Homo sapiens: one gene and its partners. The protein of the gene in region 3 purifies or fractionates together with the protein of the main gene of each other region. This does not show direct contact. Each region holds a gene or a part of one and is shown on either strand. Other genes may lie near its edges.

Evidence for each region.
Region 1: the proteins of SEPTIN2 (region 3) and SMARCA5 fractionate together in Homo sapiens (co-fractionation; one large-scale study listed by BioGRID). This does not show direct contact.
Region 2: the proteins of SEPTIN2 (region 3) and STK39 fractionate together in Homo sapiens (co-fractionation; one large-scale study listed by BioGRID). This does not show direct contact.
Region 4: the proteins of SEPTIN2 (region 3) and U2AF1 fractionate together in Homo sapiens (co-fractionation; one large-scale study listed by BioGRID). This does not show direct contact.
Region 5: the proteins of SEPTIN2 (region 3) and PAK2 purify together in Homo sapiens (co-immunoprecipitation; one large-scale study listed by IntAct). This does not show direct contact.
Region 6: the proteins of SEPTIN2 (region 3) and IRGQ fractionate together in Homo sapiens (co-fractionation; one large-scale study listed by BioGRID). This does not show direct contact.
Region 7: the proteins of SEPTIN2 (region 3) and TPR fractionate together in Homo sapiens (co-fractionation; one large-scale study listed by BioGRID). This does not show direct contact.

What each region holds. Positions count from the first base shown.
Region 1 is NC_000004.12:143,550,835-143,555,144, forward strand, and holds part of SMARCA5 (SWI/SNF-related matrix-associated actin-dependent regulator of chromatin subfamily A member 5), read left to right. Parts: intron 1-2,284; coding exon 2,285-2,350; 3' UTR 2,351-4,310. UniProt on the Homo sapiens protein: ATPase that possesses intrinsic ATP-dependent nucleosome-remodeling activity.
Region 2 is NC_000002.12:167,952,737-167,957,978, forward strand, and holds the end of STK39 (STE20/SPS1-related proline-alanine-rich protein kinase), read right to left. Parts: exon of another isoform or gene 2,841-5,242; intron 2,835-2,840; coding exon 2,760-2,834; 3' UTR 1,286-2,759; downstream 1-1,285. UniProt on the Homo sapiens protein: Effector serine/threonine-protein kinase component of the WNK-SPAK/OSR1 kinase cascade, which is involved in various processes, such as ion transport, response to hypertonic stress and blood pressure.
Region 3 is NC_000002.12:241,321,840-241,326,507, reverse strand, and holds part of SEPTIN2 (septin-2), read right to left. Parts: intron 2,293-4,668; coding exon of another isoform or gene 2,276-2,292; coding exon 2,267-2,275; intron 516-2,266; coding exon 395-515; intron 1-394.
Region 4 is NC_000021.9:43,091,843-43,095,568, reverse strand, and holds the end of U2AF1 (splicing factor U2AF 35 kDa subunit), read left to right. Parts: intron 1-32; coding exon 33-131; intron 132-780; coding exon 781-914; intron 915-1,005; coding exon 1,006-1,098; intron 1,099-2,319; coding exon 2,320-2,467; 3' UTR 2,468-2,613; downstream 2,614-3,726. UniProt on the Homo sapiens protein: Plays a critical role in both constitutive and enhancer-dependent splicing by mediating protein-protein interactions and protein-RNA interactions required for accurate 3'-splice site selection. Recruits U2 snRNP to the branch point.
Region 5 is NC_000003.12:196,829,312-196,833,625, forward strand, and holds the end of PAK2 (serine/threonine-protein kinase PAK 2), read left to right. Parts: 3' UTR 1-3,336; downstream 3,337-4,314. UniProt on the Homo sapiens protein: Serine/threonine protein kinase that plays a role in a variety of different signaling pathways including cytoskeleton regulation, cell motility, cell cycle progression, apoptosis or proliferation.
Region 6 is NC_000019.10:43,585,537-43,590,204, reverse strand, and holds part of IRGQ (immunity-related GTPase family Q protein), read left to right. Parts: 3' UTR 1-4,668. UniProt on the Homo sapiens protein: Autophagy receptor that specifically promotes clearance of misfolded MHC class I molecules by targeting them to the lysosome for degradation.
Region 7 is NC_000001.11:186,333,063-186,337,730, reverse strand, and holds part of TPR (nucleoprotein TPR), read left to right. Parts: intron 1-574; coding exon 575-718; intron 719-1,036; coding exon 1,037-1,235; intron 1,236-2,187; coding exon 2,188-2,393; intron 2,394-2,601; coding exon 2,602-2,663; intron 2,664-3,197; coding exon 3,198-3,406; intron 3,407-4,336; coding exon 4,337-4,609; intron 4,610-4,668.

The DNA of each region.
Region 1 (4,310 bases), on a different chromosome or scaffold from region 3:
GACACTTAGGTTGCTTCCAAATCATGGCTACTGTGAATAGTGCTGCAGTAAACATGGGAGTGCACATATCTCTTTGATATACTGACTTTCTTTTGGGTGTAAACCTAGGAGTAGGGTAACTCTTATCTGTAGTTTTTTGAGGAACCTTCAAACTGCTTCCACAGTGATTGTACTAATTTGCGTTCCCACCAAAAGTGTATGAGGGTTTCCTTTTCTCCACATTCTTGTCAGGATTTGTTATTGCCTGACTTTTGGATAAAAGCCATTTTATCTGGGATGAGATGTTATCTCATTGTAGTTTTGATTGCATTTCTCTGATGATCAGTGATACTGAACAGCTTTTAATATGCTTGTTTGCCATTTGTATGTCTTCCTTTGAGAATCATCTGTTCAGATCTTTTGCCTATTTTTAAATCGGACTGTTAGGATTTTTTTCAGTAGAGTTGTTTGAGCTCTTACATATTCTGGTTATTTATTAATCCTTTGACAAATGGGTAGTTTGCAAATATTTTCTTCCATTCTGTGGGATGTCTCTTCACTTTGCTGTTTCCTCTGCTGTGCAGAAGCTTTTTAACTTAATGTGATCCCATTTGTCCATTTTTGCTTTGGTTGCCTGTGGGGTATTATTCAAGAAATCTTTGCCCAGTCCAGTGTTCTGGAGAGTTTTCCCAATGTTTTCTTGTAGTTTCACAGTTTGAGGACTTAAAGTCTTTAATACATTTTGATTTGATTTTTTTATATAGTTAGGGATACAGGTCAAGTTTCATTCTTCTGTGTATGGATATCCAATTTTCCCATTACCATTTATTGAAGAGACTGTCCTTTCTCCAGTGTATGTTCTTGGTAGCTTTGTCAAAAATGAGTTCCATGTAGATGTATGGACTTTACGGACTTATCTCTGGGTTCTCTGTTCTTTTCCACTGTTGCACTGATCTATGTATCTGTTTCTATACCAGCACCATGCTGTTTTGGTTACTATAGCTCGGTACTATAAGTTAAGTCAGGTAATGTGATTCTTCCAGTTTTATTCTTTTTGCTTAGGGTGGCTTTGGCTATTTCTGGGTGTTCTGTGGGTCCATATAAATTTTAGTATTTTTTTTTCTATTTCAGTGAAGAATGTCATGGGTATTTTGATAAGGATTGCATTGAATCTGTGGATTGCTTTGGGTAGTATGGACATTTTAACAATATTGAATTTGCTAATCCATGAACATGGAATATCTATTTTTTTGTGTCTTCAGTTTCTTACATCAGTGTTTTATAGTTTATCTTAGAGATCTTTCGCTTCTTTGATTAATTCCTGGGTATTTTATTTCACGTGTAATTACTGTAAATGGGATTACTTTTTATTTTTCACATTCTTCACTGTTGGCATAGAAATGCTACTGTTTGTTGTATGTTGATTTTGTATCCTGCAGTGTCACTGAATTTGTTTATGAGTTCTAATAGTTTTTTGATGGAGTCTTTAGGTTTTTCCAAATGTAAGATTATGTCATTTACAAATAGGGCAATTTGACTTCTTTGTTTCCGATTTAGATGTCCTTTCTTTCTTTCTCTCGTCTGATTGCTGTAGCTAGGACTTCCTTGAAATACTTAAAAAGTACAAATTTAGCTTGACTGGGTTGTGTGGGAAAAATCACTTCTTGATGATATGGTAGTCCTTAATATGGGGCTTCGTGAAAATCAGGAAAGTATGTCTCGTAAATGTCAAGTGTGTACACATCTCATTGAGAATACAAGTTATAATTTTAGAATAATTTAAGAAACATTGGAAAAGCAGTGGTATTATGACTTTTACTGTTAGTCTCTAAGCTTTGATTATTTCAGTGATGTTTTAGCAATGTGAAGGCAAACACTTAAAGGGAAAAAATGTTATTTAATAATAGTTAATTTAATAAAAAATGGTTAATTTATAAAGTCATGAATAAATGAGTATCTCTGGATAATATTTGGTACTTATGTAACTGCCTTTTAAAAACTCAAGTGTTTCTTACTATTTTGGGAAGCTTGCATTTATTTGATATTGATCTACTACTGTTAATTGTGCATTAGTTTTATAACGTCATTATTAACATTAACATTTTTTATTCTGTAAGTAAAATAAGTAGGTAAGATTATTTGGAGGCTTTATAGTTTGCTTTGAAAGATTTATATAGCCTGGGGGAAAAGTCTCATACCTATTACTTTGTAGTAGTTGTTATTACTAAAGTGTTATAATGTGTCTGCAACTATATTTCATGTTTATATTAGTCTTGTGAAAAGTAATCCTTCTGTCTGTTTGTAGACACAGAAACGTAAAATGGATGGCGCACCTGATGGTCGAGGAAGAAAAAAGAAGCTGAAACTATGAATATGTTTTTGTTTCATAATCACTAACTTTAAACCAGTAGTTCTTTAATTTACGGGTCTTCATAAGATGTACTGTACAATGCTCAATTGTTATGTCATTTAAAGACATCAGGTTCATCTGTTTACTGAGCTAGAAACATAGTATGTAGTTTCACTTTTTTAAATGCAACAGCTGTGCTGAAATTTTTTTATCATTAACACTTGAAGTAATAAAATAGGCTTCATTTATTACTAAGTGTTTCATTTGATTTATTTTTCTATTGTAGTTCCATTTGTGAAGATTGTGACTTTTTGTTTATTAGCTATAATTTCTACACTTGTAAGGCTTAAAAACAAGTTAAAAAGAAAATTGCAAATAACATTTGTCCCTTTCAGTCTTCACCTAGTTGTGTAATTATTTTAATTCACTTTGCCTTTGCAGAAATTTGGGTATTTTCTTTGTAGTGCTATTGAGTCTCATCTGGAAAGATTATATAAATTGCATTCTCCTTGCTTATGTGGGTAGAATGGGAAAAGAAGGCAAGACAAAGTATACTTAAATTCTATGCATATTTCTGTTATGCTTTCTGTTTTTTTTAGTTGATTCTGAAATGAATATGCCCTATTCTTTTGAAAGAATGGCCTTTTAGTTGTATAGCCAAAGACATTTAGTATTTTCCGGTTCCTTAAGGTATTACTGTACCATTTTGTAAAAGGAATATTATTATTATTATTTTTAATTATTTGGTAAATATTTTGTCATATGACCTTCTGAAGCAGCCACAACTTAGATAATGTCAGAACTAAGGTGATTTTTTTTTTTTAATTTTGAAAGCCCAGCCAAAATGAGGTGTGAATTTGTCATACTGTTACATTGAAATTGGTAACAAAATATATCCCCTCCCATTTGGACTTTTAGGGTAAATGAAAATTTTATTGTATTTTAAAGTAGTTTCTAAGTGTTAGCAAGACTGACTATAATTCCAGTTTCTGTTTTCTATGGACAGACCTGATAAACTGGAGACCCTAAAGCAGGAATACCCAAATTATAGTGTCAGGATTTTAGCTGTACCAGAGGCCTTTATGTGCTACACATAATTTGTATAAAATTTTATATGTGCAGATTGGGTACATAAACAGTTCTCCATTTTTCTAAGGGAATGCAATAAATGTAGCATCGTGAATAAATATAACTTTTATAATCCGTAAAGTGGTCTTTTCTTTCCATTTCTTTAATTGTTTTCTCAATTTTTATTCACTTTTTCCTTTAGGACACATTTCCCTTAATTGGATATCTTTCCCTTAAATTTCTATTAGTAGTTGTTTTCATCTGCCCACATGTAATTGAAGATTTAAAAAAAAAATTTTGATACCTGCAGTATTACTAATACTGCTTAATTTCTTGAAATGTGGAATTGCTGCTGTTAATGTCAAGCAAAACGCAGTATTTATGGCAAATTGTAAAGTAATTTGAATTTAGTGCTACCTCAAAATTAACTTTTTAAATACTATGTTAGATTCTTAACAGTTAAAGGTCTAATACATGCATGAGGAATGGTTACTTATGAAAGGAAAAAGAATTTGTAAGAGTTATCACCTCAGTTTGGAAGAAATTGAAAAAATGTAAGGCTGAAGAAAACTTACGGAGGTCACAAAAGTGATGTTTTCAAGAGGAGGAGAAACTGGGAGGGAGATACACAGTGGAAATGCAAAATGAATCAAGTATAGTGGTAGCCCTGAGAGCTTAGGGACTCAAATGGAAACTGTGTGAAGGGAAACTCACTTGAAAAAAAAGCATGAACCAGCTAGGCCCTGCCACCACTGTGTTTGGCCAAGTTCACAAATCTGTTTTAACCTGTCACTTCCCTGTCACTTCTCTGGCTTTCCTCTCCCGCTAAGCTTTTGTTTCCTGGCAGTAATTAAAATCTTCTGTCAGTGCCACAGCTACTACTGCTACTGGAACTGCCTTAACCACTACTGCT
Region 2 (5,242 bases), about 73 Mb from region 3:
ATTTTTGGCACTCATGTCAAAAATTGCCATACATGTATGGGTTTATTTCTGGACTCTAGTCTGTTCTACTGGTCTGTTTTTATACCAGTACCATGCTATTTTGATTACTATAACTTTATAATGTAATTTAAAATCAGGAAGTGTGGTGCTTTCAGTTTTGTTCTTTTTCGTCAAGATTGCTTTGGCTATTCAGGGTCTTTTGTGGTTCCATACAAATGTTAGGATTGTTTTTCATATTTCTGTGGGTAATACAATTTAAAAATTTTGATAAGGATTATACTGAATTTGTAGATTGCTCTGCATGTTGGGAATTAAGGTAGTATGGTGGGTAGGAAGCTCTAGTCCACATCTGTGTATTCTAGCAATTATATAGGCCCTCGTGGTGATTTTTATGTACTAACTTTATCCTTGCATTCACCTTGTAAGGCAGTTCTTATTGTCCCTTCATCCTAATTTCTTTATGCATTTTTACATCTCTATCCTATTGTATGAATGTATGCAAACTACCTCAAATGCCATTAGGATGGATATGAAAATATGGGTGGAAATTTAATACAGACATTAAATGATATTTATAACCATGTCTAAATACAGATATTAAATGATATAACAATTATGACAAGGCAGTTATAAATAACTTTTTTTCTTAGTAATATATATTTGCTTTTTAAAGTATATTAAAGAGCCACCATATCTAGGGTTAGCTAGGAAAAAGCAATGGCACCATCCTGGGAGTCCACCCCTCTGAAAGATTTTTGATTAGTCTCCATGTTGCAAAGTCCTCCAGTTATTCATGTACATTTTATCCTCTTAGTAGAAGATAAGGGTCTTGTCTTTTCACCCACAAGTTGTACAGAAGAGTGTAAAGAACATGCTCTGAATGTCAGGAAGTGAGGATCCTGGGAGTTTAGCTCTGCAAGTAGTCCTGTAAAGGGCCTTGGACAAGTCATTCAACCACTCTGAGCCTCAGGGACTAACAGCATTAAAATGAATGAAGTGGTTGGAAGGAATCATTCTCTCTTGTCCCCTATAGCCCTATAGGGGTTTTAATTCGAAGACCATCTGTCTATATGGAGTAGAAATGTTTGCCTTTCATTCTCTCCTCATGCTAATTCAAGTTACTTGTCAAACCCAGTTCTCTGTACTGGATGCATGATGCCTCCTCACTCTGCCTCTAGGGCACTTTCACTAGTTAACTCTTACTAGGCATTTTATGAAAGTGCTAAATGCCATTGCAGTAATGCAGATGATATCTAAAGGAGGAAAGAAACAATGCAAAACAATCTCATTGTGCAATACACTTTTATTTTCCTTTTACCTTTGCAGTCATCTTCGAGTAATCGTTGTGTAAACAATAGAATGGAATGAAATTACATTAAATTGTATGCAAATGGCTCTAGAACACCTTAACAATTATGACAAGGCAATTATAAATAACTTTTTTTCCTTAGTAATATATATTTGCTTTTTGAAGTACATTAAAGAGCTGCCATATCTAGGGTTAGCTAGGAAAGAGCAATGGTACCATCCTGGGAGCCCACCTCCTTGAAAGATTAGACTCCAATTTTCAAAATCCTAAGGTTTACTAGTTCCATAATATACAGTCAAGCAGAGGGCTACTTGGGTTGAAAGTATTGATTCTTGAACCTTAACAGCGTTTTACCTTTTAGTCATTGCACAAAACCCTTCCAATTTTCACTCCACCTGGGTATTCTGCAAAATTTCAAGTAAAACTCAGATTCTGATATTTTCAAGTTTATCACCTTTAGAATAACAAATCCTATCACTTAAGGAGAGCCAAATCAGAGATGGGTATATAGTTAGCAATCTAACAGAATGGCAACATTTTACATAGCATTCTAAACGGTCCAATGAAGCAAAACTTAACATATGCCACCTTATATAGAGGAAATTTTAGATCTGAGACTATTCCAGAGTAAAGCAGCCTCAGGCACATTCTTAATGTGAAAGTTTGCAAGGCACCTCCCTCTCCCAAGAGACAGTCAGATTGTAAATTGGTTTTTAGGCAAACAGACTAAAAGAATAAGCATCCAAATTCCTAATTCAGTCATTTCAAAATTTAGAAGTTACAAATACTCCAAAGACAGACCCAAAACTTTTTGTTTAAATAACGAGATTAACTGCAAGAAGCATATAATCAAAACCCTTTTTTTCTTATAGCTAAGGTGTGTAATGCATAAATATATGAAAAATAAAATTCACAGTCAGTTTTAAAACTAGAATTCAAGTTTGGCTAATAAATCTTAATTTTATAAGTATATTAATTTCTAAATACAACATAAAAGAGGCAGTATTGTCAGATGTACAATTAAAGTATTATAACAGAAATAACAACAATGAAAGGAGAAATAGGCTTCTGGATAGAAAATTCCTTTTGTTGCCAATAAATAAGACCACCTGAGTGTATTTCAGATTCTTTTCACTTAAGGGATATCCAAATTGATTGCTAAGAATATTAAATAGCTTTTGGAAAAATGAGCAACAGTCGTGCAGCTGTGGCATTTGCTTGTTCTTGTACTGTGGATTGCTAGAGAATAAAGCAGAACTCGGAGTGTTGTAAGTTTTAAAAAATTATTTTTTTATCCCATTTTGTTGAAGCCGGCCTCTTCACAATCTTCTGATTTTGCTAGGAAATGGGAGTGAGGGGGTGGGAGGAAATGGGCAGAAAGAGGGAGGGTTGAAGGGAGTAGGGGTGGCGGTGGGGCATGACAGATCAGGGTGACATCAAGGGACATACATCAGCTGACACTCAACTGAGCAAACCCAATCAGCTTCACTTCATCAGGAATCTCCGACCCATCACAGCCAGAAGCCTGAAAAGGGAAAAAGAAAGCCTCAATGCTGGTTTGCTGCTGCTGCTGGTTGTTAAAGTCTTGTTCCTATGATGGCAGATCTAAGCAAAGGCACAGTTGGTATGGGACCATGTGTCCCATTTCTTCCAGAAGAGAGACGCCAGCCACTCTCTCGAATGACTACTGGAAGCTAAGTGCTGTCAGCACTGTGGCCATCATGCTATGAAGTACAGAACAGAGGTGGGAAGGGATTTGTTATCCATTAAAATACCATGCCCAGGCTGGAAGCTTTGGAACAGTCAGTGAAACACCCCTGCTAAGAAACCACAAACAAATTTTTCAAAAACTAAATAAAATTATTTTAAATATACTTTCTAACTAAATCACCTTAGTAATCATTCTGAGAACAACATGAAAATAAGCAGAAGAGATCTAACAGGTCACCCAGGAGTAATTTAGTTTTTACCAAACTCATTTCTTCTATGAAACTTGCCAGGAAAAAGTCATCACCAAGTACTGCGATGGGCTCATTAGAGAGAACTGCTATATAAATACCAGTGAATAAGTTTTACAGGGAAAGGTATTATAACAATTCTTTTCTATAAAAGAATTTTGTTTATATTTTCAGACATATTAATTGCCTAAAATTGGCAAAAATTATGGTGTGTCAAATACTTTATTTTTCTTACTTCAGAATCAGACAGAACTGGAAAAAAGCCATTGCCTTGGCCAGGCATGGCGGCTCACGCCTGTAATCCCAGCACTTTGGGGGGCCGAGGCAGGTGGATCATGAGGTCAGGAGATCGAGACCATCCTGGCCAACATGGTGAAACCCCGTCTCTACTAAAATACAAAAAATTAGCCAGGTTTGGTGGCACACACCTGTAGTGCCAGCTACTTGGGAGGCTGAGGGCTGAGGCAGGGGAATCACTTGAACCGGGGAGGCAGAGGTTGCAGTGAGCCGAGATCGTGCCACTGCACTCCAGCCTGGCGACAGAGCGAGACTCCACCTCAGAAAAAAAAAAAAAAGGAAGCCATTTCCCTTCAAACCTCTCACTGGTCCTAATTAATAAGTTATTTCGTTTTTCTTGTGACCTCTCCCCCTTGCTTGCTTTTAGACACACACACACACACACACACACACACACTCTCTCTCTCTCTCTCTCTCTCTCTCTCTCTCCCCCCCCGCCCCCTCAGATCCACCATTCTAAGCTGCCTCTCATCCTATAGTACATAAATCAGAATTGGACATTACATAAGAACAACAAGGAAGGGAGAAAAAAGTATGATGAATGACTGGGAATGGGCAATTAATTACCAAAGGATCATACAAACCTTTTCAGAGCCTAATTCCTGCTAAATTATTGTCACAACAATTAGTTTCCCATGGAAACGTGCCCTTTCCAATCACCACAATTAAGCTGCATAGCACTGCTTGTATACATTTAGAATATGTACTATACTGTTTTTTGAACTGTACTGTTCATAGTGTACTGTTTTTTGAACTGTTCAAAAAAACAGTACAGAAAACCAGCATCAACTCTAGCATTTTCTATTAAATAATCAGCTAACTATAATGTTTGTACCTTGAATATTTTCAAATGATTATCTTTAAAATAACATCCTATGTAAGTAGTTATGCTTATGTAAAAAAGTCACTAGCCTAAAGGATAAAAATATTAATCAGTATTTAAAGAAAGGAATTTACTTTGTACCTATCCAGTGATATCTCTGGTTTCATCTGACAGATAAAGATGTTCAGAGAAGTAAAATTGTCATTGTTTGTGTTGACAGGGGCGATGAGGTCTGAAATGCTCTTCTCCTTATCACTTTCAACAAAGTAGTACAGGCATAGAGGGCATTTTGGCTGAGGTATTTCTGGTGGTGTCACACTGACACTGTAATATTCACCTTCCCTATCCATTTTCTCCTTGTGTTATCACTGTTTCTTTATCTACCTTCCTAAATCATCCCTTCTCTCTCATGTGTAGCTCTTGTTAACATCATTTACTCAACCCACTGAATAATGGCAGACAACCTGTGTAATTAACAGGCAACTGACAAACATCCAAAGACAAACTATGGCTGCTGGTGGTGACAAAAAGGTCACATTGCCAAATGTGAAGTACACCAATGTACTTCAAATCTTCATCAGAAATTTGGCAATGTGAATATCAGGAGGTTAAAATGACTAGAATAAAACTACAATATCCAATAGTGGTTGAACTGACTAGAAATGAGAATATTAAATCCTTTCTTGTGAAGAGTAATGGAAATGAGAACTTACTAGAGTAGGTGATAAACCAGTGGTTACGGTGAGAACATCACAGAAGGAGTCTTCACAAAGTTCCTACCCACCCTGGGTCCTCAGTGCCTCCCATAGCTACACTGAAATGTCTGTCTCCTGGCCAGGACCTTTGGCTGTGTTT
Region 3 (4,668 bases):
GGGGGCCATAATGCCTTTTATGACCTAGTCTTAGAAAATGACAACACTTTCATCTCCACAATGTCCTACTGGCTACACAGGTAAAACCCTATTCAATGCAGGAAGGGACAAGAAAGTTGTGAATACCAGGAGATAAGAATCACTGGGGGCCATTTTGGAGCCTAGCTGACACAATGAGTAAACTTTCACTACATATAAATAAGAAAGTGACAGAAAAATAATTTTGCTCCTGAGAAAAATTTTCTAATGAATACACATATATTTGTTCAAATTCTCAAGTTATTTGACTCTGCCAAATTTTCCTCTTTCTTTATAGGTCACGTTATCATACTCCAGAGATTGGAAAGGGGAGATATTTATTTAGTAAGTTGGAGACTATAGATTAATTTCTTACCGACCACCATCAGTGTGAACTCAAAACCTTTTTTCACTGATTTTCGGTGAACTTGATTGGGGAGGTTTGCAAATCCAACATAGCCAGGTGTTTCTGGATTTATAAACTGAGTTGGCTGTTGCTAAATAAGATTAAAAAACAAACAAACTAATAAACACCTTAGTAGTTGCTTTTAAGATATAATCAGTTAGACATGAAACAAACATAGGTTATCAGTTTTCACAAATTTTTTAAAAAGTATAAACACTTCCAGAAGGTCATACTTCTATCAGAAAACCAGTAGTATTCAACTAGGAGCATTAAAAAAAGAAAAACTTATCTAGTATAACTCCTTAGTTGTATGCGACTGAAAATTAACATTTTGTTAATCAGTATTCTGTTTAGGAATTTAACAATACATAGAAGATACATGCTTAATACATCTTAATGCAATTTCAAATTTCGACTTGAGAGACTATGGAGTTCCAGGAAAATCAGTCAAGCTTACAAAGTACTGCTACAGCTGACAGTACTTTGAATGAATGGTTTCATTCAACAAACTTGGCTAAAGAATAGCTTCTCCCAGGTATTAGGTGCAATGCATTTCTGAAAAGTATCGAGGAAAAAAGCATCTCTCTTGCTGTGCTTCTAGCTCTATAGAACAGAGTTTCATCAAGGGTGAGGCAGGCAAATTAGGGGTGGGATGTTGAGTATCTAGTGTCAAAGACCAAGAAAGAAAAGACAGAATGAGAAGATCATAGATGACTACACTGAAGCATCAATATTCCTTGACAGAAGGGTATCTGATGAGAGAGAGGACAGAGATATGAGAAGGCAAGAATAGCAGAAGTAACCAGAATCTAGACAGTGGCATACTGAAAATGAGAAGAAATTTTAAAAATCAATTTATTAATTGAAAAAGGCAAGATACAAAATAGTATTTCCTTTAGGATTACATTTTGTAAATGTATAGTCAAATGCACACACAGGTGAAAAAGAATATATGTAACATATTAACAGTGGTTATTCCTGAGTGGTGAAATAATGACTTTTTTTTTTGCTTATCTGTGTTCCATGCTAACACTGGTATAAAATGCAAAAACTGGTATGATGATTTTGCATTGGACAGTAATGAACACCCACAGGATTCAAAGATAAAAAAAAAACAGAAATAATAATCTTGCAATGTTAACCACAAGTTCTGCTTTTCTCAGAATATGTTCTTTAGCACTAATTTATCTCTGAACTAACTTGCAAAGGCTGATTTAAACCAATTTATCAAGTCTAAGAGCCCCATCAATTTCATCATAATAAATTATCAGAATTCTAAATTATCTGGTCTGCTGGGAATGAACTAAGGGGGCCAAAAGGACTGTTACTGATGTGTGTAGAGAAAAGAAAGTAGAAGCCTGAAAAAAGAGAAAGCTCCAAGCTTTTAAGATGACAATTAGGCCAGGCACGGTGGCTCACACCTGTAATCCCAACACTTCGGGGGGCCAAAGCGGGTGGATCACGAGGTCAACAGATCAAGGCCATCCTGGCCAACACGGTGAAACCCCGAATTTACTAAAATCCAAAAAATTAGCCAGCGTGGTGGCACGTGTCTGCAGTCCCAGCTACTCCGGAGGCTGAGCCAGGGGAATCGCTTGAACGTGGGAGGCAGAAGTTGCAGTGAGCTGAGATCATGCCACTGCACTCCAGCCTGGTGACAGAACAAGACTCCCGTCTCAAAAAAAAAAAAAAAAAGACAACTAAATTAGAACTCTTTGTGTTAATGAATCAAATGTATCAGTTGTATTAAAAATAATGAATCATATAAGTCCCGACTGTCAACAGTCTGAAAACATAAAGCAATTTCTCCTTATGCTGTAGATACATGAAGTATGATCTTACCTTAGACATCTTTTGTGAAGCTTCGTCTGTTAAAAAAAAAACACACAGACACACATAAACGCACATACATAGTATGTATGTATACGCACGTATATTTAACAGCGTGAACTGACCTGAAGAAGACTTACACATACATAGGCAATGTAAAAAGAAAATACAATTTCAGGACCTTCCAAATGCATTAGGCCAAAGGGAAAAGTTAAGCACTGACAGCTGGCTCGTGTAACATCACTACTTTTATTCTTTCTGACTTTTGTGTTTAGATGTATATATTAACCAGACCCCCTATTCTTTATTCAAAACTAGACTAAATGACTGGGAGATGAGAGATCCTTATGACTGTTACTTCTTTACAAAAGGAAGTTAAACAAATCCCTTCAAGTGTAATCAATAGTAGCCAATCAAATTTGTATCTTTAAATGAGCCTTAGTTCCGAAAATGTTATAATTCTGTTTGGCACCTCCATTTTGCCTATATAAACAATCCTCATTTTTCCCCACCCTGGGAGCGCTAATCACCATTCTTTGGTGTAGCTCGCTTACACTCTGTACTTAAATGAATTCTTTTAACTGAATCAGGAGCCTTTTGATTATTTTAGGTGACAGCATCTCAATTACTTCAAATATTTCCCTAGGAATAAGACAAGCATCTATCATTACAAAAATAAATTCGATTAAAAAAATTAGGCCAGACGTGATGCTCACGCCTGTAATTCCAGCACTTTGGGAGGCCGAGGTAGGCAGACCACTTGAGGTCAGGAGTTCAAGACCAGCCTGGCCAACATGGTGAAACCCCATCTCTACTAAAAATACTGATTCAGCCAGGCATGGTGGCGCTTGAGGTCAGGAGTTCAAGACCAGCCTGGCCAACATGGTGAAACCCCGTCTCTACTAAAAATACTGATTCAGCCAGGCGTGGTGGTGCGTGCCTGTGATCCCAGCTACTCAGAAGGCTGAGACAGGAGAATCGCTTGAACCTGGGAGGCGGAGGTTGCAGTGAGCCGAGATCATGCCACTGCACTCCAACCTGGGCAACAGAGTGAGACTCCATTAAAAAAAAAAAAAAAATTAGATGGTGGCTGGGTGCAGTGGCTGACGCCTGTAATCCCAGCAGTTTGGGAAGCAGAGGCAGGACTGCTTGAAGCCAAAAATTCAACACCAATCTGGGCAACATAGCAAAACCCTATCTCTACAAAAAATTAAAAAATTAAAAAAATTTTTAAGTTGATAAAAGCAACTGTATATATATATGTACGCACATATTCCATATTTTCAATAATATTCAAATTTTTTTTCAGTACTGACTATATGTTAGACACTAGGGACACAAATGGGATACACACGGATACATACTTCCCTGACCTCTGGAATTATGTCATTTCCCCTCTCTCTTTGAAACCTTTCAAGGAGTAAGGGACTTCATTACATAGAGCACTGTAACTTGAACATGTTTGCCACCCACTGGAGTTTCCTAGAGCTACCTGAGAACTAGATTTTGACACTGGGGTACAGAGAGCAATGTGAACTACATTTATGAGGAAAGGAAATAGTACTGAAGGCATCTGAGTGTCTGAAAAATGTGACAATATTTTTAAAGATATGTGGAATTTTTTTTTCTCTTTTCTTTTTTTTTTTTTGAGACGGAGTCTCGCATTGTCTCCCGGGCTGAAGTACAGTGGGTGATCTCAGCTCACTGCAACCTCCACCTCCTGGGTTCACGCCCTTCTCCTGCCTCAGCCTCCCGAGTAGCTGGGACTACAGGCGCCCGCCACCATGCCCGGCTAATTTTTTTTTAATTTTTAGTAGAGATGGGGTTTCACTGTGTTAGCCAGGATGGTCTCGATCTCCTGACCTCATGACCCGCCCGCCTCAGCCTCCCAAGGTGCTGGGATTACAGGTGTGAGCCACTGTGCCCAGCCAGAGATATGTGGAATTTTTAAACAAATTTTAGAAACCCTGAAGCTTTGGAAAGCATGGAGTCTGTTGGCTAACCTTCAGTAACAACCCCAAGAAAGATGACTGCTGTCAAATTTGGTTCCCTCTGGAGCTTAGAAACTTATTAAAAAGCTTCTCTCACTTTGCCTCTCGATTCCCCTCCCCCAAATCTTAACTTCCTGAATACTGTGTCCTCTGTTTCCCTTTTGACTGGAAATGTTCCCAGCTACTTTGGAAGAAATGAGATCCCTGCATCCCCAGTGTTATTTGGCTTGGTTAACCAAGGGATAGTAGCAGTAAGGTTCAAGAGCCTTTAATTTCAGCAAAACCTAAGAATTGAGAGCAAGTGTGAGTGTGGAGGAGTAGAACTTCCTAAAGGGAAAGAGAAGGGTCAGATGTAATACAGACAGTTTTGGCAGAAGGAGTTGGCATCTCGTTTTCAAATAATACAGAGATAAGTATCTGATT
Region 4 (3,726 bases), on a different chromosome or scaffold from region 3:
ACGAGTCTTAAACCACTGTGGTCTCCCTTCAGGAGGTTTTTACAGAAATGGAGGAGAAGTATGGGGAAGTAGAGGAGATGAACGTCTGTGACAACCTGGGAGACCACCTGGTGGGGAACGTGTACGTCAAGGTAGGAGCCAGGGCGAGACGGCGGCGTGGCCGCTTAGTGTGCCAGGGCCAAGGCCAACAGGCGAAAGCGAGACAGTGGTGCAGCCGCTTAGTGTGCCGGGGCCAAGGCCGACAGAGGATGGGGTGCCTGTCGCCATGCACCTTGAGATCCTGGATGCTCAGGCGCACAGCAGGGCTCAGGTGCACTGGCTCGGCGCCTACCAGCTGCGTCATATGTGGCGGTGGCCAGCCCACACGTGCGCCCAGCCAGCAGAACTGAAGGACGGACCGTACACCACAGCCATCGTTATTTCAGTGTAGAATATTTAGTACCTGTTGGTTTAGAAGCTGTGTGGACTAAGGAAAAGTTAGGTTTACTCACATGTTTGGTTTCTTTTTTCTTTTTTAGTGAATAAAACTTTATTTGCCTACACAGCCATATTTGCTCCTTTAACCAGTTGAATTTGAAAAATGAAGGCAACATTTGGCAAAATCTTGGACTATCTTGAAGTTAATCTCATTGAAAATAAAGGATTTTTCAATTATCCTGTAATACTATTCCACCTTACTATACCTGAGTGTGTATATCTCTCTCTGATATACTTGGATTGGTAATTGAGAAAGTCTTATTAAAGCGTGGATGGCAAGCACTTCTGTTTTTGTCTTTTCAGTTTCGCCGTGAGGAAGATGCGGAAAAGGCTGTGATTGACTTGAATAACCGTTGGTTTAATGGACAGCCGATCCACGCCGAGCTGTCACCCGTGACGGACTTCAGAGAAGCCTGCTGCCGTCAGTATGAGATGGGGTGAGTGAGGAGTGGCCAGTGACGTGACTGAGCACAGTTCGGGGCCGTGTGCACACGAGGTAGTAAATGTCTCCTTCCAACCCACCCACAGAGAATGCACACGAGGCGGCTTCTGCAACTTCATGCATTTGAAGCCCATTTCCAGAGAGCTGCGGCGGGAGCTGTATGGCCGCCGTCGCAAGAAGTGAGTATTCCTGTGCCCGTTGTTAAGCTCAGTGGCTTCTTTCTCCCCTCACAACCCTCCCCCTTCCAAAAAAAAAATTTTGGCATAGGTGTCGTTTCTGTTTTTTAAAAGGCAGTGCTTAGAACATAGTACATATTTTTAAATATCCAAATGTCCTCTTTGGAGAAGAATATTCACCTGCACACAGGTAACTTCATTATCCAACTTCTCAAGTAGAGATCAGATCTTAGTAATCAAGCAAGAGGGCGGTTAGCTGGGCAGCCGCGGACATGAGGCTCGTGGTGAAAGTGGGCATGCAGTTTATTCTCCCAGATATTACGAAGAAGAAGAATAGATGTTGTAACCTCCTTTAGATCAGGGATGGCTTCCCTGGGACACATTGGAAGAAGAATTGTCTTGGGTCACAAATAAAATACACTAATGATAGCTGATAACTTTTTTTTTAATTGCAAAAAAAATCTCATAATGTTTTAAGCAAGTTGATGAATTTGTGTTGGGCTGCAGGTTGGACAAGCTTTTGCTTTACATATTTCACATGTCCACTGGGGTTTCTTTTGGTTTTGCTTGTTGGTTTTAGGGCATTTCATTATGTCTTGGGATCGCTGGCATCCTCCCTTCGGGACACTGGCAGAATCAGGCCCAGCGGTCACATCTCTCTGATCCTACATTTAAATGTACGACAGGTCACAGAGCAGAGAAAATCAAGACGTCAGAATCGAACCGATTGAGTTCTGAGTCTGGAGAGGTTCTCATCCCTCTTCTGTTAAACATGGACTAGTAAATAGATGGGTGGCGATTGTTTTATTGTCAGCATTCAAGAAGCATAAGAGAAAAACAGGCCTGCTCTCCCCAGCCCAAAAACCTGATGGACACAGTAGCTATGAGCGCCTGAAGCGTGGGGTCAGTGAGGGTTGAAGATGGTATGTGTCCAGCTCATTTTGATTATGATTTCCTGTGACCATTTGAGTTGGTTCTAGAAGAAGACAGAAGATGCAAGGTATTACACCTGTTCACTTCTAAGTTGCACATTTTTTTCTCCTGAAACTTTTCACACCTGAAATCAGGGTGTGTCTCAGTCACGGCGTGCAGTCTCTTCAGCAGTGTTTTTCCTTATCAGTGCCGTTGGCTTGAGGAGCTGCGCGTGTTGAGAGAGTGGGTGTGGTTCTGTGCTGCGTGCCGTGGTTTGGATGGCACGGTTTTCTTTATTTTCCTTGGTTGCAGGCATAGATCAAGATCCCGATCCCGGGAGCGTCGTTCTCGGTCTAGAGACCGTGGTCGTGGCGGTGGCGGTGGCGGTGGTGGAGGTGGCGGCGGACGGGAGCGTGACAGGAGGCGGTCGAGAGATCGTGAAAGATCTGGGCGATTCTGAGCCATGCCATTTTTACCTTATGTCTGCTAGAAAGTGTTGTAGTTGATTGACCAAACCAGTTCATAAGGGGAATTTTTTTTAAAAAACAACAAAAAAAAAAACATACAAAGATGGGTTTCTGAATAAAATTTGTAGTGATAACAGTATTCTTGGTGTAACTTATTTCTTGTGGAAGTTCTTTAAATTTCTTTTTCTTTATAAATCTGCTAGTCATCTTGGAGGTAAAGATTAATATCCATCCACCACTTTGAGTATAAATGAAATAATATTTTTTATCTTAGGGCATGAAATAAAACACATACCAGGTGAGATCTACATGCTAAATAATCCGGAATTTCTCGAGGCTGTCATGGAAAGCCTTTTGGGGTTTCTTTTCTAACTGGTTAGTGAAGAAGTGCTTAGCTATAATCAGTAGACACGCTGTAGACTGCACTGATGTTGGGAAGAAGGCTGATCTGTGGTGAGACACAGTGGGTGGGCCCGACCCATGTTACCTTCTCGTTCCTGCGAGTTTGTGTCAAGAACCCCATGTGTTCGTGGGAGGGAGCGTGGATGCTCACACGGCACACTGAGGGCCAGTAGTCCGTGTCCGTGTTTCCTTATGCCAATGGCTGTGGGAGACACAGAAGCCTGCGGTGCAGATCCGCCTTTAGACACTCTGGTATTACTTTCCCCAAGCTACTCGGGTGGCGCGTGCTGGTGGTGTGACTATGGTGACAGCCAGCTGACCGGTCTGGGGCACCTGCCACAAGTCAGTGCTGGGGGCTGAGCATTTCATTCCTAAGACCAAAACGTTCCAAGTGAGGCCATCCCAAACCATGCCCACGTGTCCACATACCTCATCCTCAAAAACCTCCTGGCTCTAGGTGGGAGTCACCCAGGCTCTCCTGCCCTGCTCTGCTCCTTGTGGGGGCTCAGTGACAGATCCTGCTGGTGGAGTAGGGGAGTGGCTGGGCCCTAACTACACACCCAGTGAAGATTGGCAGGACATACTACTTGACCATCTCATGAAAGCCCATTTGTATGTGATGAAGTTCAAGAAGGTGATGGTGTCGATTCACCTGGGAGGCTGAAGTGAGCTATGATCATGCCACTGCACTCCAGCCTGGGCAACACAGTGAGACCTTGTCTCTTAGAAAAAAATAGGTTTGTATACTATAGTAGTGGGCAGATAATTTTAGATGGGTTGGTGGCAGTGTTTGGCGATGTGGGTGGTGGGCAGAAATTTTAGATGGGTTAGTGGCAGTGTTTGGTGATGT
Region 5 (4,314 bases), on a different chromosome or scaffold from region 3:
CTTCAATTTGGAAATAAATTTCTGTATATGTTGCAATTTTAGGTTTAGGTTTGTTCTTTTTCTTTTTCATTAATCCTCTCTCACCTCACAGATACCCCCTCCCATGGCAAATAATATAATAACCAGTGAATTTTCAGGAATTTAAAAATTAGCTTTTTTCCACTTAAAGGAGAAAAATATTTGGGACTAGCAGCAGAGGCAGTAAGAGATGTGAACCTTGGTGAGCTCTGATACAGTGAGAAGAGATTATACTCATGAAAGAGAATGTTAGTGTTACAGAGAAGCAGCCGATAGCAAATCGACTGTAGAGACTTGGCGGCGGTGGCATTGCCCCAGGTCGTCAGCAGTGTGGTATTATCTATGAGAACTTGAGCGACAGAGTATTTCTTGATGAATTTATAGATCATTTGAGATGTTGAGTTACTTTAGTTTAGTTTTGTTTTGTTTTTTCAAATAAGTAGAGACTATTGTAAAAAACGAGAAAGGAAAATGAAATGTGCGTGTTGATAGCAATAATTTGTTTCTTTTAAAGATTCTAAAAGGTCTGAGACCTGTAGCATTAATTATTTGAGTGCCCTCCCTTCTCCCCTCCCCTCCCTTTTCTCTTCTCTTTTTTCCTCTCCTCTTCTTCTCCTTTATTCATTGTTTTGCTTTTGGAGTGGGTGTTGTTCAAGTATCTGTGGTTTGGTTCTGGCATTTTGTTCCCACCATCCCCTTCCCCCATTAACTTCCCCCCTGCTTGCCATCCTGCAGTAGTATAAATCATGAATAAAAAATAATTTTGCTGTTGTAGTATACATTGGAGAAACTGGCAGGTTTTATTTCCATTATTTTATTTCCACTATATCTATGATAAGATGCAATTATAAGGAGAGAAGTGACTGTTTTTTATTGATAAGGCAAGATTTTCAGAAAAATGAGTAAAATAATTAATGAAACATATTTAGAGCACTTAATGGTCTCTGTTTTCAATATAATTCTTGATTTCATTTTTCTCTGGAATATATTGGCCTTCTACAGCTATTACTGAATTATAGAAACTGGTTTATTTCTGGCAGAAAGCTGCAGTGCCACCTGAGTTCCAAATTTTACCATTCTTTGTAAACAGTTGGATGGATTATGATAAAGAAGATGCTACCAATGAAATAGAAAACCAACGAGATGAGAAGACTGTGATCCTCATGTACTCAGAGGCACTTCCCTCCTAAGTCAAAGACCATCCTCACTGACTATGTGCCAACGCCTCGTTTCAGGCTTGTGACTCAACAAAGGGCTTTTCCATTGATAGAAGCAGTTTGGGATTTGTAGTTGCGACTTCTTCGATAGTTACCTGCACGTCCATTGCTGGCAACTGACTTGTCATTAAAACCTGGCTCTTTGGTTAAGGGAGCTACGCTGTGGTTTATTCTTAAGTTACGTGGATAAACTAACCTCTAACAGAAATATACTTTGGTTAATTTTGAAATGTGTCATTTTTAAACAATCTTAAAAGTAATACAGAATTGTGATTTATTAATTTTAAAACATTCAGAACTTGTTGAAAGAAAAATTATATCTGAATCAAGATTCATGTTTTTTATTTTTATTTTTTTTGATACAGAGTCTCACTCTGTCACTCAGGCTGGAGTGCAGTGACATGATCTCAGCTCACTGCAACCTCCGCTTCCTGGGTTCAAGCAATTCTCATGCCTCAGCCTCCTGAGTAGCTGAGACCACAGGCACCCGCCACCACACCCAGCTATTTTTTTGTATTTTTAGTAGAGACAGAGTCTCACCACATTGCCCAGGCTGGTCTCCAACTCCTGAGCTCAGGCAGTCTGCCCACCTTGGCCTCCCAAAGTGCTGCAGTTACAGGCGTGAGCCACTGCACCTGGCCTCATGTTTTTTAAATAATTGCCTTTTATATTTACCCTTTTTGTCATCACTTTAGAATGAAAATTCCCATTTAAATCTGAAAGTTACCTTAATAGTCCTCTTGTGTTATTAGGACAGTATTATTATAGTACTTATTTATTTTATTTTAGATTTAAAGTTATCTTCTCTTTTTCTTTTTTCTTCTGCTGCTTTTAGGGACAATTAAAACTGGGAAACTATGAAACATGGAACATTTTATCCTACCTGAAAGTAAACGAGTAATTGTGAAGCATAAGACACTGAGGCTAATACAACTCTGTCTTCATGTGTTGACTGCCTGGCACATAGTATTCATTCTCTTCCCTTTAACATAGAAGTGTCCAGCTGCGTACAGTCTAGTAACCAGCAACTGTAAACGAACCTGTGCCTCTAACAAGCGATTCTAAACCACCTATGAGTATTTCTTTTAGGGCTCACTTAAATACATGTTTGTATATACTGTATTCTAGCCAGAATAATTTTAGATCTGATCAGGTAGTAGCTAAAATTAGAAAAAAACAAAATAGATGCTTAAAGAATTTGCATCCATTTTTGAGTCTAAATCTTTTAAAATATACTGAGATCCACATCTAGTGAAATGTCAGTGTCAAAATATTATAGATTATAGCTAAAATCCAGATTAATACTCATTTGGGGTTTTTTATAGTGGAACTTCATAGTAATACAAAAAGCAGATTGTCTTCCTGTCTCCGCTGCTCCCACAGTAGGTATTGAAACTGGTAAAATCAGTTTTTTGATAGTGTGTGTATATAAGAAAAAATAGATACACACATTCTTTTTTCTCAGTCAACACATTGATTGAACACTCTGGCAAAGATGCTGTGGTGGATGAGGTTGGAGTTCGAAAGAAGAAGCAAGCGCTGGCCTGGCCTTGAAAGAACCGAAGTCTTTCCCATTCACTTCTCTAGAAAGCTGCCAAGACAGAGGCAGAAAGAAATGGATGATAGTTCTGTCAAGCACACTTCTGTTCTCTTAGAACTTAGAAGTGTTTCTAAGAGAACAGAAGTAATAAGAGAAACAGTTACGTGTGGAATTCAACATCTTTGGTTGGAACGCATTGGCTTTTTTTTTCTTGTTTTGATAGAAATGGAATTAAGCAAAAGTAGTTTTTGTCTTTTCTGTTGTCTTCAAATTTTATGCCTTTTATTTTTAATTTAATCCCGTTCAATTATTTAATTGTTATACATTGACATTAACTGCTGTATTTTGACTTTGTTCAATAATTTTGTTCTTTCAGGGCTAGAAATAAACTTTTTAAAAAAAGTGTGCATTTTTCCCTTTCCTAAACTTTTATTCTTTCTTTTGATCAGCGTAAAAGAATATTTTAATGTCTTTTGATAGCATAAAAGAATATTTAAATGTCTTAATAGGTTTTCAAAGAACATTTAGTATTTTTAGTGATAAATGTTTTAAACCTTTTAATGGTGTTGTGCCATCATTTTGAATTTATTACAAAGCTCCAAAGTAGGAAGGTTTCTAGAAATGTGTGGGCAGTAAACATGAAGTTTTCCTTTTTTTTTTTTTTTTTTTTTTTTTTGAGACAAGTCTCACTCTTTCTTCCAGGCTGGAGTGCAGTGGCGCCATCTCAGCTCACTGCAACCTCTGCCTCCCAGGTTCAAGTGATTCTCCTGCTTCGGCCTCCTGAGTAGTTAGGGGAAGTTTTCCCTTTCTAAATCAAGTTCAGAATAATTTTCTTTATCAATGTTTCTCTATCAGACCCAGGGAAACAGTTCTGATTTGAACACACACCTTGCTGGAGTAATAAAAACCTGATCAGAATTTCTGTGTTAAGTGAACCAAGAAACCTTTTAGAGTGCAATACGTCGTAAGGCATCACTTCATTATGTGAATTAATTTGGAATCTTAGGTACCCTAACATAGGGAACAGCCACAATAATGGTTTACTATCAAAAAGCATAAAATAAGGCCAGGCGTGGTGGCTCACACCTGTAATCCTAGCACTGGGAGGCTGAGACTGGCGGATTGCCTGAGCTCAGGCAGGAGACCAGCCTGGGCAACATGATGAAATCCCATCTCTACTAAAATACAAAAAAAAATCAGCCAGGTGTACTGGCACATGTCTGTAGTCCCAGCTACTTGGGAGGCTGAGGCACAAGAATTGTTTGAACCCGGGAGGTGAAGGTTGCAGTGAGACAAGATCATGCCATTGCACTCCAGCCTGGGTGACAGAGCAAGACTCCTGTCTCAAAAAGAAAAAAAAAAAAAAAAAAAAAAAAAAAAAAAAAAATATATATATATATATATATATTCTGGGTGAGAAGGGGAGGCAATGACTTTGAAATGTATTTGTTACACTATATGGCTGTTTCGTCTTGTTCTAACATTTATATTTCTTTGAACTAATAGCAAATGCTCAAAGCATTGCCTAAGAAAACTTTT
Region 6 (4,668 bases), on a different chromosome or scaffold from region 3:
TTTGAAATGGAGTCTCACCTTGTCACCCAGTCTGGAGTACAGGGATGTGATGACTGTAGCTGAGATGACAGGCATGTGCCACCACACCTGGCTAATTTTTGTAGTTTAGTAGAGAAGGGATTTCACCCTGTTGGTCAGGCTGGTCTCGAACTCCTGACCTCAGGTGATCCACCCGACTCAGACTCCCAAAGTGCTGGGATTACAGGTGTGAGCCATCATGGCCGCCTGACTCTTTCTGATGCCTGAGTGGCTACCTTGAGTCCTGCCTGGGGACCCATGCACCTGCTGTTCTCTTTCCTTCAAGGCTCTACTCACAACTTCCTGTTCTACTCTCAAACCTTCCTGTGACGGGCTCAGTCAGATCTCAGCTCACGTATCCCCTCAGAGAGGACTTCCCCTCCCTGACCACCCTATCTGAAGTAGCTCACATTCCCCCACTATTCATTTCGGCCAGTTGAGTTTCCTTGTAGCAATTATTACTGTCAAAAATGATCTTATTTATTTACCTGTTTATTGGCTTTTGACCCGTTGCCTGTCCTGTTCTCTGTTGTTTCCCCAGCATCTAGAACAATAGGTGCCTGACACAATAGGTGCTTCGTAAATATTTATTATTATTATTATTATTTTAGAGACAGGGTCTTGCTCTGTTGCCCCGGCTGGAATACAGTGGGATGATCATGGCTCACTGCCATCTCCAACTCCTGGGCTCAAACGATCCTCCCACCTCCGCCTACAGAGTAGCTGGGACTATAGGTACACAGCACCAAATTTTCTGTAGAGACGGGGGTCTTGCTTTGTAGCCCACACTAGTGTTGAACTCCTGGCCTCAAGTGATCCTCCTGCCTTGATGGGATTACAGGTGTGAGCCACCACACCCAGCCTAAATGTTTATTTCATTGGTCAGTGTCAGAACTAGGATTGGAATTTAGATTGTTAATCTCTTGCCACAAGATAGGAAAATGGAGCAAGATGAGGAGAAAAAAGCATTTAATGGGAGAGAACACCCTTGTCTGAGGTCAGGGACCTGGGAAGCAAGCACGACTTTGCCACTGTCACTGTGTGTTACTTGGACAGTGCCTTATTTTCCCATCTGTGAAATAAAAGAGCTGGATAAGAACCTTAGTTTTGAGATCCTGTCTCCCTTAAAAGCTGAAGACAAAGGTAACTGATCCAAGGGCAGACAAGGGATGGTACCATCATCTCCAGCTTGGACTCCCACTGCTGACAAAATTTGTCCCTTCAAAGTTGAGATAGCTACCATGGGGAAGAGCACTTAGTTCTATACTGAATGGCTCCAGGCATTTTCATGAAAGCTCTTTCAGCTTTGGGGAAGAATATTCATCCATATCTTTACCCCATCATATTAGTGTCTAAGCCCTGCAATCAGGCATGTCAGCCACGTGATGGAATGGGAGGGCTGCAGGGCAGCACTGTCCAGTAGAAACGAAATGCAAGCCACATATGTCATTTTAAGTTTTCTTTTTTTGAGATGGAGTTTCACTCCATCACCCAGGCTGGAGTGCAGTGGCACGATCTCGCCTCACTGCAACCTCCGCCTCCCAGGTTCATGTGATTCTCCTGCCTCAGCCTCCTGAGTAGCTGGGATTACAGGCATATGCCACCATGCCTGGCTAATTTTTGTATTTTTAGTAGAGATGGGGTTTCACCATGTTGATCAGGCTGGTCTGGAACTACTGACCTCAGGCCACCCGCCTTGGCCTCCCAAAGTGCTGGGATTACAGGCATGAGCCACCGCGCCCAGCTAATTTTTGTATTTTTATTTTATTTATTTATTTATTTTTTGGGAGACGGAGTCTTGCTCTGTCACCCAGGCTGGAGTGCAGTTGTGCGATCTTGGCTCACTGCAACCTCAGCCTCCCAAGTAGCTGGGATTACAGGCATGCACCATCATGCCCAGCTAATTTTTGTATTTTTAGTAGAGATGGGGTTTCACTGTGTTGGCCAGGCTGGTCTTGAACTCCTGACCTCAGGTGATCCACCGGCCTCAGCCTCCCAAAGTGCTGGGATTATAGGCGTGAGCCACTGCACCCGTCCTAATTTTTGTATTTTTAGTAGAGATGGGGTTTCACCATGTTGGCTAAGCTGGTCTGGAACTCATGGCCTCAAGTTATCTGCCCACCTCAGCCTCCCAAAGTGCTGAGTAAGCCAAGTTTTCTAATAGCCACATTAGACAAGTAAAAGGAAACAGGTTAAATTCATTTTAACATGTTTTACTTAACCCAATGTATCCAAAATAGCATTTCAACATGTCATCGGTTTTTTAGTTTTTTTTTTTTTTGAGATAGTGCTTCGCTTTGTTGCCCAGGCTGGAGTGCAGTGGCACAATCTCGGCTCACTGCAACCTCCACCTTCCAGGTTCAAGTGATTCTCCTGCCTCAGCCTCCCGAGTAGCTGGGATTACAGGCACCCGCCACCATGCCCACTAATTTTTGTATTTTTGGTTAGAGATGGGGTTTCGCCATGTTGGCCAGGCTAGTCTCAAACTCCTGACCTCAGGTGATCCACCCACCTCGGCCTCCCAAAGTGCTAGGATTACAGGCGTGAGGCACCGTGCCTGGCGTCATCGGTATTATTTAAATGAATTATGTTACGTTCTTTTGTGCTGTCTTCAAAATCTGTTATATATTTTACACTTACACCAAATCTCAATTACCATGGTACATTTTTATCTGAAATGCTTGACCTTTATTTTGATTTCATAAAATTCATAGTTGGAGAAGTAGATTCACATATCCAAGTTGTTCCAATTATATAATAGTTTTCCAAAAACTGAGATGGGTGTCCATTTTTTTTTTAAGTAAAGATGCAGGTCTGGTTATGTTGACCAAGTTGCTGGGTTGTTTTGTTTTGTTTTGAGACAGAGTCTCACTTTGTCACCCAGGCTGGAGTGCAGTGGCATGACCTCAGCTCACTGCAACCTCTGCCTCCCAGGTTCAACTGATTCTCTTGCATCATCCTCCTGAGTAGCTGGGACTACAGGTGTATGCCACCATGCCTGGCTAATTTTGGTATTTTTCTCAGAGACGGGGTTTCACCATGTTGGGCATGCTGGTCTTGAACTGCTGACCTCAGGTGATCCGCCCACCTCGGCCTCCCAAAGTGCTGGTATTACAGGCATGGGCCACCACACCTGGCCTCAGCTGTTCAATTAAAAGTAAATACAACTTAAAATTCTATGTTTCATTGGCAGTAGTGCAACATTAATACTGAGTAGCCACATGTGATTAGTGGCTATGGTATTGGACAGGGAAGGTACAGAATACTTCCATCAACATAGAAAATTCTATCAGTCTAGCTCTAGGGGCAGATAGTCCTTCCACTGACTTGGGCAAGTCACTCTACAAATGGCATCTACCTCACATGGTTATGGTGAGAATTCAGCGTATGTATGTACATGCAGGCACACAATATGCACACAGACACATAACATAGTACACCCTTTCCTGAAAAGCCTGACACATGGAGCTCAAACATGAGTGCCACCCACCCCTGGGCAGCACCAAGATGGCTCTAGTCTGGGTGCCTTTGTCTCACCCCCATGCCTTTGCTCGGAGTGTGCTCCTCATTTTTCTGCCACTTTGACCCTGTCTCTGATTTGGTCCTGTCTGACATCACTGCTATATGCTTTGCTCCTCTCAATTTCCTCTGCCCTCATGCCAGCAGGAGTCATGCCAGAGATCATATCTGAGAAAGCAAGACAATTTTGTGTGTGTGTCTGTGCCCATAGAGGAGTGCTGGTTGTGTTGATATAGTTGTAGATTGGTTGTGTTTACACAGTTGTATATATTGACACCCTTGAGTGTTATGACTTCTTTTGGGGGTGGTCGCCTTTTAAATCATAACTTTTAATGGGATTCCATTTTAGTCTTTGTGAAGACATAAGGTTGTTGGCAGGCATCTGTCCCTGGGAGCATCCAAGCAGAAAAGACTAAGACTCCCTTGTAGACAGATCACTGGCCGCCACTGAAGTGTGTCTGCATGGCACCACAGGGCTGGAAGACCCTTGAAGGCAGGAATTCAAGGAAATGTATGATGAATTTTGGCATTGCCATCAAAAGCAGAACAGGCATGGAAAACTTGGGTGAGTGGGCGAGACAACCTCCTCACCACAGCAGAGTTCCATCCATGCCTGGATAATGATGGAGGGATTTGTGTCCACTGCAGTGGGGAACCATGAAGGACACATCAAGGGTGTGGTTGGCCTGTGGTGCTCTTTGGAGGAATGAATAAAAATGAATAGAAATCCTATTGCGTGTCTGTTCTTTTGGAGTTTGAGGGAAAAGAAAGATCCTTGAGATTTTGACTGGGCTGGAAACCTAGACTCCAGCGTCTGGGGATAGGAGGGATGGTGGGGAATCCGCTGGGAAAAACTGGGCTGTGATCAAGAGAATTTATCAGTATCTGAGTTTTTCCACCCTGGAAGGAGTGCGGGCAGACTTACTGTTTAAACATTGGGAGCTTATGATGGTAAAGCGCCTTAGTTCTGGAGCCAGGTATACCCATTAATGACCCCAACTGGGCCAGCCTTTCTGTAGCCATGCCCTTGGATTGTTGCTCTCCTTCTAGGTTTGACTATGTGGTTTGCTTCAGCCACTAGAACAATAGCAAACATGATACAAGCAGAGGCTTGGAAAGTGCTTATGCGGC
Region 7 (4,668 bases), on a different chromosome or scaffold from region 3:
GTATAGTTTTAAATAAATTGTTTATGTTAACCACCTATCAAAAAAATTCAGAAATCTTTGTTATATTTATATTTTGAATCTAAATATTGTTTTTAATTCCTGAAGGTAAGGAATTTGTATGTTGAGAATTATGTATTTATTTCATGTTGGATTAGAAAATAAATATAAAGAAAAAAAATTCACAATTAATACCCCTTTGTTTTAGCCACTATTAGTACATTAGTATCCCTTTTCATACATGTAAGCGACGTTTTTCCAAAGAAATAATATTATATGCTTATATTCTTTTGTATACTTTTTTCACTTGATTCATTATCATGAAAATACAGTTAAGTGTTGAAAATTCAACTATAATGCATCATTTTGATTAGCTGTTTAGTATTCAGTTATGTGGAAAACCATAACTAGTTCCCCATTTTTGGAGATTACAGTTGTTTCATAGAAAATTCTGTTTTGAATACCTTCAGGGATAAAATTTCTTTGCAAAGCTGTGATTATTTTCTTAGACAAACTTGCAGAAATGGAATTACTGAATATAAATATGTGAGTGTATTATTACTGTTTGTTGTCTTAGGTTATGGAGACATCGGCTCAGTCCTCTGGAGACCATCAGGAGCAGCATGTTTCAGTCCAGGAAATGCAGGAACTCAAAGAAACGCTCAACCAAGCTGAAACAAAATCAAAATCACTTGAAAGTCAAGTAGAGAATCTGCAGAAGGTATGAGTGTGAGAACAGTCTGTTCCTAATTCTTTCCTGTTATACACCTAAAGAAATATGTGTTAACTACTGACACTTTGTCTTACCATGTGGGAATGGATACATTTTATTCTTTTTACTTTGAATGGCTCATGTATGTAAGTAGTACCCAATCATCTTCAAGTGTGCATTTAGTTGGTCTGACCACCATTTTTATACTTATACTTCCATTTAATCTTTTAAAAAGCAAATTAATAAGTTATACTTTAAGTTGCTACCACATACAGTTTATATTGAAATGATTGAATTCCATGGTGAATACTTTGTTTTCCTTTAAAGACATTATCTGAAAAAGAGACAGAAGCAAGAAATCTCCAGGAACAGACTGTGCAACTTCAGTCTGAACTTTCACGACTTCGTCAGGATCTTCAAGATAGAACCACACAGGAGGAGCAGCTCCGACAACAGATAACTGAAAAGGAAGAAAAAACCAGAAAGGCTATTGTAGCAGCAAAGTCAAAAATTGCACACTTAGCTGGTAAATATCTGTTTAAAGTTTGAACTTGGTAGTGAAAGTTGATTATGTGTTGCAGGCCTAAAACTAAATGGAATAGAAATAAAAGGTATCTACTTATGAAGGGTGTTTGTGTGTGTATGTGTGCTTTAAATATTAGGAATAATTAGTTGGACACAAAGAGCAATCCTAATTTTCAAGTGATGAGGATATCCTTGATATGATGAAATTTTTCTCAATTGTTGGCTGGCAGTAGATAATGGAATACTGCTATCCTTCTGCTTTCATGGATAACAATTCTATCTTGTGACAGAGATCCTTTGAGCCCAGACCGTGCTGTCTAGAAACCTTATGTAGACTGCATAAAGATCTTTACCAGCCCAGGGATTTTTTTGTGCCTCGTTTGGTGGAGGACCCCTCTAGCTTTTCAGGGAGAGTATCATGTCAAATTTATGAAGAACCTAGTTCTTCAAGGCTCAGGGCTTTATTCAGCCTTGCCTATCAGTCTGCTGAGTAGTTAAATAAAATGTCAAATCAGTTGGATTTTGTTACAGGCATTTTTTTAAAATGATCTCTAAGACAGTGTCCTAACAACTTACTTGATTTTAAAAGTTCTTGAATTATTTTTAAACAGTGCTGTAGATTATATGAAATAAAAATTTTGCAATTCATAGTAATGAATTGCATGATACATTGAAATATAAACGGGCTTCTGTTAACTAGGATCTTTAGCTTTTTGAGATTTTAGTTAGGAAAAAGTAAATTTTTATGTTGGAGTAAGTATATTTTATATTCTAGTAATAAGTTAAAGCATGAATGTACTTAGAACTTTGCTCATTGAGATGTATGATGTATCATAACTAATGTAGATGTTATAGTAGTAGAATCTGATGTGACCATGTGCCAATTAAGTGCATAAATGCTGTTTTAAATGTTTGATTATAATATTAATATAATCGCCTGGTTACTTCTTTAGGTGTAAAAGATCAGCTAACTAAAGAAAATGAGGAGCTTAAACAAAGGAATGGAGCCTTAGATCAGCAGAAAGATGAATTGGATGTTCGCATTACTGCGCTAAAGTCCCAATATGAAGGTCGAATTAGTCGCTTGGAAAGAGAACTCAGGGAGCATCAAGAGAGACACCTTGAGCAGAGAGATGAGCCTCAAGAACCTTCTAATAAGGTGATTAGCTAATTCTGCTTAAGTAACAAATTGTTTTTCTTTGTACATTTTACTTGAAAGTGCTTGGTGATATAGGAGCCTTTGTCAGTGAATTTTGGCTAAAATTCAATATATGCGGAGAGAATTAACAATAATGACAATTTTTTTGTGGCATTTTTAGTGGACTCTTGTGGGCTAGGAACAACAATCAAGAGCTTTCTCTTTATAGGTCCCTGAACAGCAGAGACAGATCACATTGAAAACAACTCCAGCTTCTGGTGAAAGAGGAATGTGAGTTTTAGTTATTTCATAGTCTGTTATTTTTCTTTTAAAGCTCAGGGAATATCTAGTGATCTTTCTGTTTAGGAAAAAGAAATCTGTGTATTCTATTGTAAAAACATACACTAAAGAGTTGTTTTCTCTGCAGAACTGTATCATGTATTTGCCAGCTTGTTTTCACCATACTTTCAGTCCTATCAGATGAAGCTTTGTGACAGAGAAAACGTCTCTCATCTTTTAGTTTACAGTTGGTTTCTAAGTTAGGCTGCTACTGATTTTCCCCGTGATGTTACATGATGACAGATAGAAAATGCTGGGCTGAGACTTGGGTTCAGCAATTCAACAGCTAGATACATTTTACATTGTCAGGATGCACCACTCTGGAGCATTCCCTGTGTAGTTTTTAATGCTTAAATTCAAAACAGCTTTAATAAGGCTCTGAAATATTTAGTGAACAAAAAAATGGAGACCTATACTCACTGTGTTTTTAAAAGTATTTGCATAATAATTTGTTATTAATTATTCTTCCATTTTCTCCTCTATAAGTGCCAGCACATCAGACCCACCAACAGCCAATATCAAGCCAACTCCTGTTGTGTCTACTCCAAGTAAAGTGACAGCTGCAGCTATGGCTGGAAATAAGTCAACACCCAGGGCTAGTATCCGCCCAATGGTTACACCTGCAACTGTTACAAATCCCACTACTACCCCAACAGCTACAGTGATGCCCACTACACAAGTGGAATCACAGGAAGGTTAGTAAAATAATACAGATCTGATGAGACTGCTTATTTAGATTTATTATGAGAAGATGACAGTAATTTCAAAGACAAATGAAGCATCCACTACAGCTGAAGTCACGTCATTGTAAAAATGGGTGTTTAATATTTGAAGGACATACTTCTAGGACCAAAATTTTCACTTGTAATGACAAAGAATATATGAAATCCACTTTGGAAAATCATACTGAATTACTGGCTCAATCCAACATTGCTTTCTCACTGAAACTGACCATTTCATTGCTTTCTTCAATTTTTTCCCATGACACTCTTGTTATTCATTACAGCAATTACAACTTTGTATTTTATTCTGTGGTATACATGCTTTTTACTCCACTACATTGAGCTCCTCAAGGGCAAAAATCTCAGCTTCTTATTGTTTAATCCCTTTACCTAACTCCACAGTAGGTGTTCAGTAAAACTTTGCTACCTGCATATTTCCTTAGATTCTTATCTTGACAAATGTTAGAATTCAGTAAATTATTCAAGTATTTCTGTGCTGTGAAAGTAGAGAATGTTTTATTTCAGCTACATCCAATAAACTAAATATATTACTAATCAAATTTACTATCTGTTATATCAATTAAAAACTAAATGATGCTTAATGAAAAATTCTAATTTTACTTTGAGCTTAATTTCATTAATTTTATTCAACAGTAATTTAAATGAATAGATGCAAAATCAGTTACAGATATTTATTTAATTCAGGCAACATTTTATTGCATGCTACCATATCAATTACATAGGGAATATAAAAATGCATAATACATTACCTTTACCTACAATGTATTTGTCTACCAAGTGCCAAATCTGTGTGAAAGGTGACATGTACCACAGAATAGGAAGGATAATTTCAGCTTTGATAAAAGTAGAAGGCTTATATTCAGCATTATAATTATTTTTCAGCTATGCAGTCAGAAGGGCCTGTGGAACATGTTCCAGTTTTTGGAAGCACAAGTGGATCCGTTCGTTCTACTAGTCCTAATGTCCAGCCTTCTATCTCTCAACCTATTTTAACTGTTCAGCAACAAACACAGGCTACAGCTTTTGTGCAACCCACTCAACAGAGTCATCCTCAGATTGAGCCTGCCAATCAAGAGTTATCTTCAAACATAGTAGAGGTTGTTCAGAGTTCACCAGTTGAGCGGCCTTCTACTTCCACAGCAGTATTTGGCACAGGTAAAATTAATTTTAAAATGAAGTCAGAGTAGACCTATGCATTTATAAGATCTTGAGTG